2 separate regions of the Homo sapiens genome follow, and region 1 is linked to region 2. Evidence: fine-mapped expression QTL. A gene starts in region 2. The other region holds a variant in brackets. All regions are shown on one strand. Distances are from middle to middle. Region 1 has its middle 23 kb from the start of KRABD5. Region 2 holds the start of KAT8 (lysine acetyltransferase 8).

The links. PIP is the estimated chance that this variant, and not a neighbour inherited with it, causes the effect. A credible set is the group of variants that fine-mapping cannot tell apart.
Region 1: its variant is the best candidate, but not a certain one, in a credible set for the expression of KAT8 in nucleus accumbens (GTEx, PIP 0.79).

What each region holds. Positions count from the first base shown.
Region 1 is chr16:31,687,449-31,692,627 of GRCh38, reverse strand. No RefSeq gene overlaps it. Among named protein-coding and RNA genes, the nearest start is that of KRABD5, 23 kb to the left of the region's middle. The variant G/T (reference allele first, on the strand shown) is at 3,063.
Region 2 is chr16:31,115,013-31,120,180 of GRCh38, reverse strand. It overlaps KAT8 (lysine acetyltransferase 8), which reads right to left and starts at 2,517. Exons shown (of 11, transcript NM_032188.3): 1 at 2,289-2,517. The coding sequence starts at 2,499. It also overlaps a transcript of BCKDK not described here. RefSeq lists an enhancer at 1,934-2,053 and silencers at 2,224-2,573, 2,473-2,699.

The DNA of each region.
Region 1 (5,179 bases), 570 kb before region 2:
GTGTGAGATGGTATCTCATTGTGGTTTTGATTTGCATTTCTCTGATGGCCAGTGATGATGAGCATCTTTTCATGTGTCTTTTGGCTGCATAAATGTCTTCTTTTGAGAAGTGTCTGTTCATGTCCTTCGCCCACTTTTCGATGGGGTTTTTTTTTTTCTTGTAAATTTGTTTGAGTTCATTGTAGATTCTGGATATTAGTCCTTGGTCAGATGAGTAGGTTGCAAAAATTTTCTCCCATTCCGTAGGTTGCCTGCTCACTCTGATGGTAGTTTCTTTTGCTGTGCAGAAGCTCTTTAGTTTAATTAGATCCCATTTATCAATTTTGGCTTTTGTTGCCATTGCTTTTGGTGTTTTAGACATGAAGTCCTCGCCCATGCCTATGTCCTGAATGGTATTGCCTAGGTTTTCTTCTAGGGTTTTTATGGTTTTAGGTCTAACATTTAAGTTTTTAATCCTTCTTGAATTAATTTTTGTATAAGGTGTAAGGAAGGGATCCAGTTTCAACTATCTACATACGGTTAGCCAGTTTTCCCAGCACCATTTATTAAATAGGGAATCCTTTCCCCATTGCTTTTTTTTCTCAGGTTTGTCAAAGATCAGATAGTTGTAGATATGCGGCATTATTTCTGAGGGCTCTGTTCTGTTCCATTGGTCTATATCTCTGTTTTGGTACCAGTACCATGCTGTTTTGGTTACTGTAGGCTTGTAGTAAGTATAGTTTGAAGTCAGGTAGCTTGATGCCTCCAGCTTTGTTCTTTTGGTTTAGGATTGACTTGGCAATGCGAGCTCTTTTTTGGTTCCATGTGAACTTTACAGTAGTTTTTTCCAATTCTGTGAAGAAAGTCATTGGTAGCTTGATGGGGATGGCATTGAATCTACAAATTACCTTGGGCACTATGGCCATTTTCACGACATTGATTCTTCCTACCCATGAGCATGGAATGTTCTTCCATTTGTTTGTATCCTTTTTTATTTCATTGAGCAGTGGTTTGTAGTTCTCCTCGAAGAGGTCCTTCACATCCGTTGTAAGTTGGATTCCTAGGTATTTCATTCCCTTTGAAGCAATTGTGAATGGGAGTTCACTCATGATTTGGCTCTCTGTCTGTTATTGGTGTATAAGAATGCCTGTGATTTTTGCTCATTGATTTCATATCCCGAGACTTTGCTGAAGTTGCCTATCAGCTTAAGGAGATTTTGGGCTGAGATGATGGGGTTTTCTAGATATACAATCATGTCGTCTGCAAACAGGCACAATTTGACTTCCTCTTTTCCTAATTGAATACCCTTTATTTCCTTCTCCTGCCTGATTGCCCTGGCCACTATGTTGAATAGGAGTGGTGAGAGAGGGCATCCCTGTCTTGTGCCAGTTTTCAAAGGGAATGCTTCCAGTTTTTGCCCCTTCAGTATGATATTGGCTGTGGGTTTGTCACAGACAGCTCCTATTATTTGGAGATATGTCCCATCAGTACCTAATTTATTGAGAATTTTTAGCATGAAGCGTTGTGGAATTTTGTCAAAGGCCTTTTCTGCACCTGTTGAGATAATCATGTGGTTTTTGTCTTTGGTTCTGTTTATATGCTGGATTACATTTATTGATTTGGATATGTTGAACCAGACTTGCATCCCAGGGATAAAGCCCACTTGATCATGGTGGATAAGCTTCTTGATGTGCTGCTGGATTCGGTTTGCCAGTATTTTATTGAGGATTTTTGCATCGATGTTCATCAGGGATATTGGTCTAAAATTCTCTTTTTTTGTTGTGTCTCTGCCATGCTTTGGTATCAGGATGATGCTGGCCTCATAAAATGAGTTAGGGAGGATTCCCTCTTTTTCTATTGATTGGAATAGTTTCAGAAAGAGTGGTACCAGCTCCTCCTTGTACCTCTGGTAGAATTCGGCTGTGAATCCATCTGTTCCTGGACTTTTTTGGTTGGTAAGCTATTAATTATTGCCTCAATTTCAGAGCCTGTTATTGGTCTATTCAGAGATTCAACTTCTTCCTGGTTTAGTCTTGGGATGGTGTAGGTGTCAAGGAATTTATCCATTTCTTCTAGATTTTCTAGTTTACTTGGGTAGATGTGTTTATAGTATTCTCTGATGGTAGTTTGTATTTCTGTGCGATCGGTGGTGATATCCCCTTTATCATTTTTTATTGTGTCTATTTGATTCTTCTCTCTTTTCTTCTTTATTAGTCTTGCTAGCGGTCTCTCAATTTTGTCGATCCTTTCAAAAAATCAGCTCCTGGATTCATTAATTTTTTGAAGGGTTTTTTGTGTCTCTATTTCCTTCAGTTCTGCTCTGATTTTACTTATTTCTTGCCTTCTGCTAGCTTTTGCATGTGTTTGCTCTTGCTTCCCTAGTTCTTTTAATTGTGATGTTAGGGTGTCAATTTTAGATCTTTCCTGCTTTCTCTTGTGGGCATTTAGTGCTATAAATTTCCCTCTACACATTGTTTTAAATCTGTCCCAGAGATTCTGGTATGTTGTGTCTTTGTTCTCGTTGGTTTCAAAGAACATCTTTATTTCTGCCTTAATTTCGTTATGTACCCAGTAGTCATTCAGGAGCATGTTGTTCAGTTTCCATGTAATTGAGCGGTTTTGAGTGAGTTTCTTAATCCTGAGTTCTAGTTTAATTGCACTGCGGTCTGAGAGACAGTTTGTTATCATTTCTGATCTTTTATGTTTGCTGAGGAGTGCTTTACTTCCAACTATGTGGTCAATTTTGGAATAGGTGTGGTATGGTGCTGAAAAGAATGTACATTCTGTTGATTTGGGGTGGAGAGTTCTGTAGATGTCTATTAGGTCTGCTTGGTGCAGAGCTGAGTTCCATTCCTGGATATCCTTGTTAATTTTCTGTCTCATTGATCTGTCTAATGTTGACAGTGGGGTGTTAAAGTCTCCCATTATTATTGTGTGGGAGTCTAAGTCTCTTTGTAGGTCTCTAAGGACTTGCTTTATGAATCTGGGTGCTCCTGTATTGGGTGCATATATGTTTAGGATAGTAAGCTCTTTTTGTTGAATTGATCCCTTTACCATTATGTAATGGCCTTCTTTGTCTCTTT[G/T]GATCTTTGTTGGTTTAAAGTCTGTTTTATCAGAGACTAGGATTGCAACACCTGCCTTTTTTTGTTTTCCGTTTGCTTGATAGATCTTCCTCCATCCCTTTATTTTGAGCCTATGTGTGTCTCTGCACGTGAGATGGGTTTCCTGAATACAGCACACTGATGGGTCTTGACTCCTTATCCAATTTGCCAGTCTGTGTCTTTTAATTGGAGCATTTAGCCCATTTACATTGAAGGTTAATATTCTTATGTGTGAATTTGATCCTGTCATTATGATGTTAGCTAGTTATTGCTCGTTAGTTGATGCAGTTTCTTCCTAGCCTCCATGGTCTTTACAATTTGGCATGTTTTTGCAGTGGCTACTACCGGTTGTTCCTTTCCATGTTTAGTGCTTCCTTCAGGAGCTCTTTTAGGGCAGGCCTGGTGGTGACAAAATCTCTCAGCATTTGCTTGTCTGTAAAGTATTTTATTTCTCCTTCACTTATGAAGCTTAGTTTGGCTGGATATGAAATTCTGGGTTGAAAATTCTTTTCTTTAAGAATGTTGAATATTGGCCCCCACTCTCCTCTGGCTTGTAGAGTTTCTGCTGAGAGATCAGCTGTTAGTCTGATAGGCTTCCCTTTGTGGGTAACCTGACCTTTCTCTCTGGCTGCCTTTAACATTTTTTCGTTGATTTCAACTTTGGTGAATCTGACTATTATGTGTCTTGGAGTTGCTCTTCTTGAGGAGTATCTTTGTGGCATTCTCTATATTTCCTGAATTTGAATGTTGGCCTGCCTTGCTAGATTGGGGAAGTTCTCCTGGATAATATCCTGCAGAGTGTTTTCCAACTTGGTTCCGTTCTCCCCTTCACTTTCAGGTACACCAATCAGACGTAGATTTGGTCTTTTCACATAGTCCCATATTTCTTGGAGGCTTTGTTCATTTCTTTTTATTCTTTTTTCTCTAAACTTCTCTTCTCGCTTCATTTCATTCATTTGGTCTTCCATCGCTGATACCCTTTCTTCCAGTTGATTGAATTGGCTACTGAGGCTTGTGCATTCATCACGTAGTTCTCATGCCATGGTTTTCAGCTCCATCAGGTCCTTTGAGGACTTCTCTGCATTGGTTATTCTAGTCAGCCATTCGTCTAATTTTTTTCAAGGTTTTTAACTTCTTTGCCATAGGTTCAAACATCCTCCTTTAGCTCAGGTTTGATCATCTGAAGCCTTCTTCTCTCATCAAAGTCATTCTCCGTCCAGCTTTGTTCCATTGCTGGTGGGGAGCTGCATTCCTTTGGAAGAGGAGAGGCCCCCTGATTTTTAGAGTTTCCAGTTTTTCTGCTCTGTTTTTTCCCCATCTTTGTGGTTTTATCTACCTTTGGTCTTTGACGATGGTGATGTACAGATGGGTTTTTGGTGTGGATGTCCTGTTTGTTAGTTTTCCTTCTAACAGTCAGGACCCTCAGCTGCATGTCTGTTGGAGTTTCCTGGAGGTCCACTCCAGACCCTGTTTGCCTGGGTATCAGCAGCGGAGGCTGCAGAACAGCGGATATTGGTGAACAGCAAATGTTGCTGCCTATTCGTTCCTCTGAAAGTTTTGTCTCAGAGGATTATCCGGCCTTGTGAGGTGTCAGTCTGCCCCTACTGGGGGGTGCCTCCCAGTTAGGCTACTAGGGGGTCAGGGACCCACTTGAGGAGGCAGTCTGTCCGTTCTCAGATCCAAGCTGCGTGCTGGGAGAACCACTACTCTCTTCAAAGCTGTCAGACAGGGGCATTTAAGTCTGCAGAGGTTTCTGCTGCCTTTTGTTTGGCTATGCCCTGCCCCCAGAGGTGGAGTCTACAGAGACAAGAAGGCCTCCTTGAGCTGTGGTGGGCTCCACCCAGATCGAGCTTCCCAGCTGTTTTCTTTACCTACTCAAGCCTCGGCAATGGCGGATGCCCCTCCCCCAGCCTCACTGCCGCCTTGCAGTTTGATCTCAGACTGCTGTGCTAGCAATAAGTGAGGCTCCGTGGGCATAGGACCCTCCAAGCCAGGCGGGAGATATAATCTCCTGGTGTGCCGTTTGCTAAGACTGTTGGAAAAAGTGCAGTATCAGGGTGGGAGTGACCCGATTTTCCAGGTGCCATCTGTCACCCCTT
Region 2 (5,168 bases):
ATGGAAAAAGGCTAGGGTCATCAGGAAGGTAAGGCTGGAACAAAAGGAATCCTGCACACTGAGAAGCAGTTTCCAGAGTTCAGGGCCACACATCAGCTAACCTCACTGGTCCACCTCTGCCATTCTACTCAATCACTGCCACAACTGTGAGGTGGATCAGGTTGAGGCTGTTATTCTCATTTTACGAATGAGAAAATAACTGGCTGGGTGTGTGGCTCACACCTGTAATCCCAGTACTTCTGGAGGCCGAGATGGGCAGATCACTTGAGGCCAGGAGTTTGAGACCAGCCTGGTCAACATGGCAAAACCCCATCTGTACCAAAAAGACGAAAAAAAAAAAAGCCAGGCATGGTGGCACACACCTGTAATCCCAACTACTCGGGAGGCTGAGGCAGGAAAATTGCTTGAACCTGGGAGGCAAGGCTGAGGCAGGAGAATTGCTTGAACCCGGGAGGCAGAGGTTGCAGTGAGCCGAGATTGTACCACTGCACTGTGGCCTGGGTGACAAGAGCAAGACTCTGTCTCAAAAAAAAGAACCCCAAAAAACAGAACAAAACTGAGGCTTACCTAGGGTCACAGATTTGAAAAGTGGTAAGAGCTAATACTTAACTGAATTTAAGTCTGACTCTAAATTCAATGCTCATTTTACCACATACCCGCAGTTGTTCATTTGTTCAGGGATCATGAGTGCTGGCTCTGGATTAAGATAACCTACATTAATGTATAATTCCAGGGCTGGGCATCGTGGCTCACGCCTGTAATCCCAGCACTTTGGGAGGCCGAGGTGGGTGAATCACGAGGTTAAGAGGTCAAAACCATCCTGGCCAACATGGTGAAACTTCGTCTCTACTAAAAATACAAAAATTAGCTGGGTGTGGTGGCGCACAACTGTAGTCCCAGCTACTCAGGAGGTTGAGGCAGGAGAATCGCTTGAATCCGGGAGGCAGAGATCGCAGTGAGCCAAGATGGCGCCACTGCACTCCAGCCTGGCAACAGAGAGCGATTCCATCTCAAACAAACAAACAAAAAAAAATACACAAAATTCCAGCTCCCTACTTCCTAGCTATGTGTAACTGAGCAAGTTATTCCATCTTTCTGAGCCTCAGTCTCTTCATCTGTGAAAAGGGATAACAGCTGGGCACAGTGGCTCATGCCAGTAATCCCAACACTCTGAGAGGGTGAGGTGGGAGGATCACTTGAGCCTAGAAGGTCTAGGCTTCAGTGAGCTGTCATCGTGCCACGGCAATCCCACCTGGGTGACAGAGCGAGATCCTGTCTCAAAAAAAAAAAAAAAAAAAAAGACAAAAGGGATAATAGTACCAACCTTAGAAGGTGAATTAATGCCTCCAAAATTTTTAGCAGCGCACCTGACAATTAGCAGAGCATTCAATAAATGAGTAAGGCAACCACTACGTGTCTGGCCCTATGCTGTGTTGTTGCCGGGTACAGAGGACACAGTGATGAATCACAAGAAGTGCTGCCCTCCAGAAGTTCCCAGTATGATGGAGGAAGACAGAGAGAGAAAATTACAACATAATGTTACAAAAACTATGACTGAGGTAGGAAAAAAATGTTGCAGGAACATAGAGAAGGGAACCACTCACTTTGCCTGAAGGGGAATCAAGGATGACATCACAAAGGATATGAAGCTAAGAGGATGAGTAGGAGCTAGGCAGGCAAACAAGGAGAAAGGGAAGAAAAAGCATTCCAAGCAAAGGGCACAGGTGGTAAAGGGCGTGTGGTCTTCAGAGGGCACAGTGTGTTCTGGCCTGGCAATGCCCTTTCCTAGTGTTGGCTAGAAACTGGAGAGGTCACAAAAATGAATGCCACCCTAAGGAGTTTGGGGTTAATTTTGAAAATGAGAGAAGGCAGCAGAACTTTAGGAAAGGGAAGCCTGTTGTTTCTGGAAGGTCTTCTCTCTGCGGATGGCTGCCAGGGACAAATGGAAAAAGAAGACGCAGAGACAAGAGAGGGTGAGGAAGCAGCGTTAGCAAGAAAAAGGAATGAAGCCTAAGACTGGGCAAGGAAGTGGAATGGGAACAATCCTGGTGAAGGCCTGAGCGGTGGGTTTGTAGGCGTCGCTCGGCATAATTCAAGGTCAACAGCCTCCCACAACCCGGCTGGTTTCTCAGCGCCCGGAACGCGGCGTTCTTTCCTCAAGCCCCGCCCCTCCTCCTCTCCACTCCCAGCCCCCGGATCTTGGCCTCACTGACAGCCTGTCCTCAGGCCCCGCCCCACCCCCTGGCCCTGAGCTCCGCCCCGCCCCCAGCCCTGGGCCCCGCCCTCACGCCAGGTGCTATCCGGTCGCCGGCACAGGTACGTTTCTCCGATCTCCACCGTGACTTCCGGCTCGCCGCGCGCCGGGGTCGGCGGAGAGACGCGGCCCGGGGATGGGGCGGTCCCCTCAGCGGCCGCATTCTCCCCGGGCCCGGGCTCGCCCTCCCCCGCGACCCCTGAAGTCCCCGCCGCAACCGCCGCAGCAGCTCCCTGTGCCGCCATCGCGGGAAGGGAAGTGACGCCAGAATCGGACGCCACGCAGTTCTTTTGGCTCCGGGTCAGCAGTGCGTGGGGCGGGCTCCTCAAGGTTTGAGGGCGGGGTCTGTGATGTAGCAGGAGCCGATTGGCTTCTGTGGCCGTCCCCGCGGCCCCGCGAGTTGGATGTTGAGTGTGCGGCAGTCTTGGAGCTCCTGGTTTTCCGTGCGGACCTGTGGCTGCAGCCTATGGGTGAGGAGAGGAGACAGACTTACCTCATGCGATGACTCAACTCAACCTTTTTTTAATTTATTTATTTATTTATTTATTTATTTATTTTGAGACGGAATCATGCTCTGTCGCCCAGGCTGGAGTGCAGAGGCGCGATCTCGGCTCACTGCAACCTCCGCCTCCGGGTTCAAGCGATTCCTCTGCCTCAGCCTCCCGGGTAGCTGGGACTGCAGGCGCGCGCCACCACGCCCATCTAATTTTTGTATTTTTAGTAGAGACGGGGTTTCACCATGTTGTCCAGGATAGTCTTGATCTCTTGACCTCGTGATCTGCCAGCCTCAACCTCCCAAAGTGCTGGGATTATAGGCGTGAGCCACCGTGCCCGGCCAGCTGAACCTTTTTAAAGGCCCTGGTACCTGCGGAAGCCAAGATGTGCCAATTTTCAGCGGGCGCTGCCCCCACTTTAACAGGGCAGAGCCAGAGCGGCCGCCCTGGTGGCCTGGAGCCGCACACTCGCGCTGGCCTAATGTCGCTCCCCGCCCCCCCCCCTTTTTTTTTTTTGAGATGGAGTCTCGCTCTGTCGCCCAGGCTGGAGTGCAGTGACGCGATCTCGGCTCACTGCAGCCTCCGCCTCCCGGGTTCAAGCGATTCTCCTGCCTCAGCCTCCTGAATAGCTGGGATTACAATCGCGCGCCACCACGCCCGGCTATTTTTTGTATTTTTAGTAGAGAGAGGGCTTCACCCTGTTGGCCAGGCTGGTCTCGAACTCCTGACCTCAGGTGATCCGCCCGCCTCGGCCTCCCAAAGTGCTAGGGTTACAGGCGTGAGCCACCGTGCCCAGCCAGTGCCCCATTTTTGAAGGTTGAAGAGACTACTTCCCCTATTTGGGATACAGTTGGTGCGGGGAAAGCAGAACGGGTGTGTCCAGGGACAGGCCATAATTCACCCTCACAGGATAAAGTCTAAAGAAAGGACGAGTTGGGCGGGGCGTGGTGGCTCACGCCTGTAATCTCAGCACTTTGAGAGGCCGAGGCGGGCGGAGATCGAGACCATCCTGGCTAACACCGTGAAACTCCGTCTCTACTAAAAATACAAAATTTAGCCGGGCGTGGTGGCACGCACCTGTAGTCCCAGCTACTCGGGAGGCTGAGGCAGGAGAATCGCTTGAACCCGGGAGGCGGAGGTTGCAGTGAGCCGAGATCCCGCCATTGCACTCCAGCCTGGGGACCAAGAGCCAGACTCCATCTCAAAAAAAATAAAAAGGCCGGGTGCGGTGGTTCACGCCTGTAATCCCAGCACTTTGGGAGGCCTAGGCGGGTGGATCACGAGGTCAGAAGATCGAGACTATTCTGGCTAACACGATGAAACTCCGTCTCTACTAAAAAAAAATACAAAACAATTAGCCGGGCGTGGTGGCGGGCCCCTGTAGTCCCAGCTACTCGGGAGGCTGAGGCAGGAGAATGGTGTGAACCCGGGAGGTGGAGCTTGCAGTGAGCTGAGATCACGCCACTGCACTGAGGGTTCTGTGAGAGTCAGTAAAGGTTAAAGCCATTTATATGTGTATGGTCCAACCATACACAATCGGCCCTCCATATCCGCATGTCCCACCTTTGGAGATTGAACGAAGAGCGGGTTGAAAATACAGTGTTGAGGTATGGTGGCTCACACCTGTAATCTCGCACTTCAGGAATCCAAGCAGGAGGATCGCTTCAGGCCAGGAGTTCAAGACCAGCCTGGGCAGCATAGAGACCTCCTTTCTACTAAAAATTTGGGGGAAAAAAAAAATTAGCTGGGCCTCGGGGCCCGCACCTGTAGTCCCACCTACTCAGGAGGCTGAGGCAGAGGGATCGCTTAAACCCAGGAGGTCGAGGCTGAGTGAGCTATAATCCCTCCACTGCACTCCAGCTTGGGTGACAGAGACCCTGTCTCAAAAAAAAAGGGGGGAAAGAAAAGGAGGCTGGGCGCAGTGGCTCACTCCTGTAATCCCACCACTTTGGGAGGCCGAGGCAGGCAGATCACCTGAGGTCGGGAGTTCGAGACCAGCCTGACCAACATGGAGAAACCCCATCTCTACTAAAAATACAAAATTAGCCAGGCGTGGTGGCCGCATGCCTGTAATCCCAGCTACTCGGGAGGCTGAGGCAGGAGAACCGCTTGAACCTGGGAGGCAGAGGTTGTGGTGAGCTGAGATTGTGCCATTGCACTCCAGCCTGGGCAACAAGAGTGAAACTCTGCCTCAAAAAAAAAAAAAAAAAGACTGGGCGCGGTGGCTCACACCTGTAATCCCAGCACTTTGGGAGGCCGAAGCAGGTGGATTACTTGAGGTCAGGAGTTCAAAACCAGCTTGGCCCACATTGTGAAACCCCGTCTCTACTGAAAATACAAAACAGTCAGGGGTGGTGGCGTGTGCCTGTAATCCCAGCTACTTGGGAGGCTGAGGCAGGAGAACTGCTTGAACCCAGGAG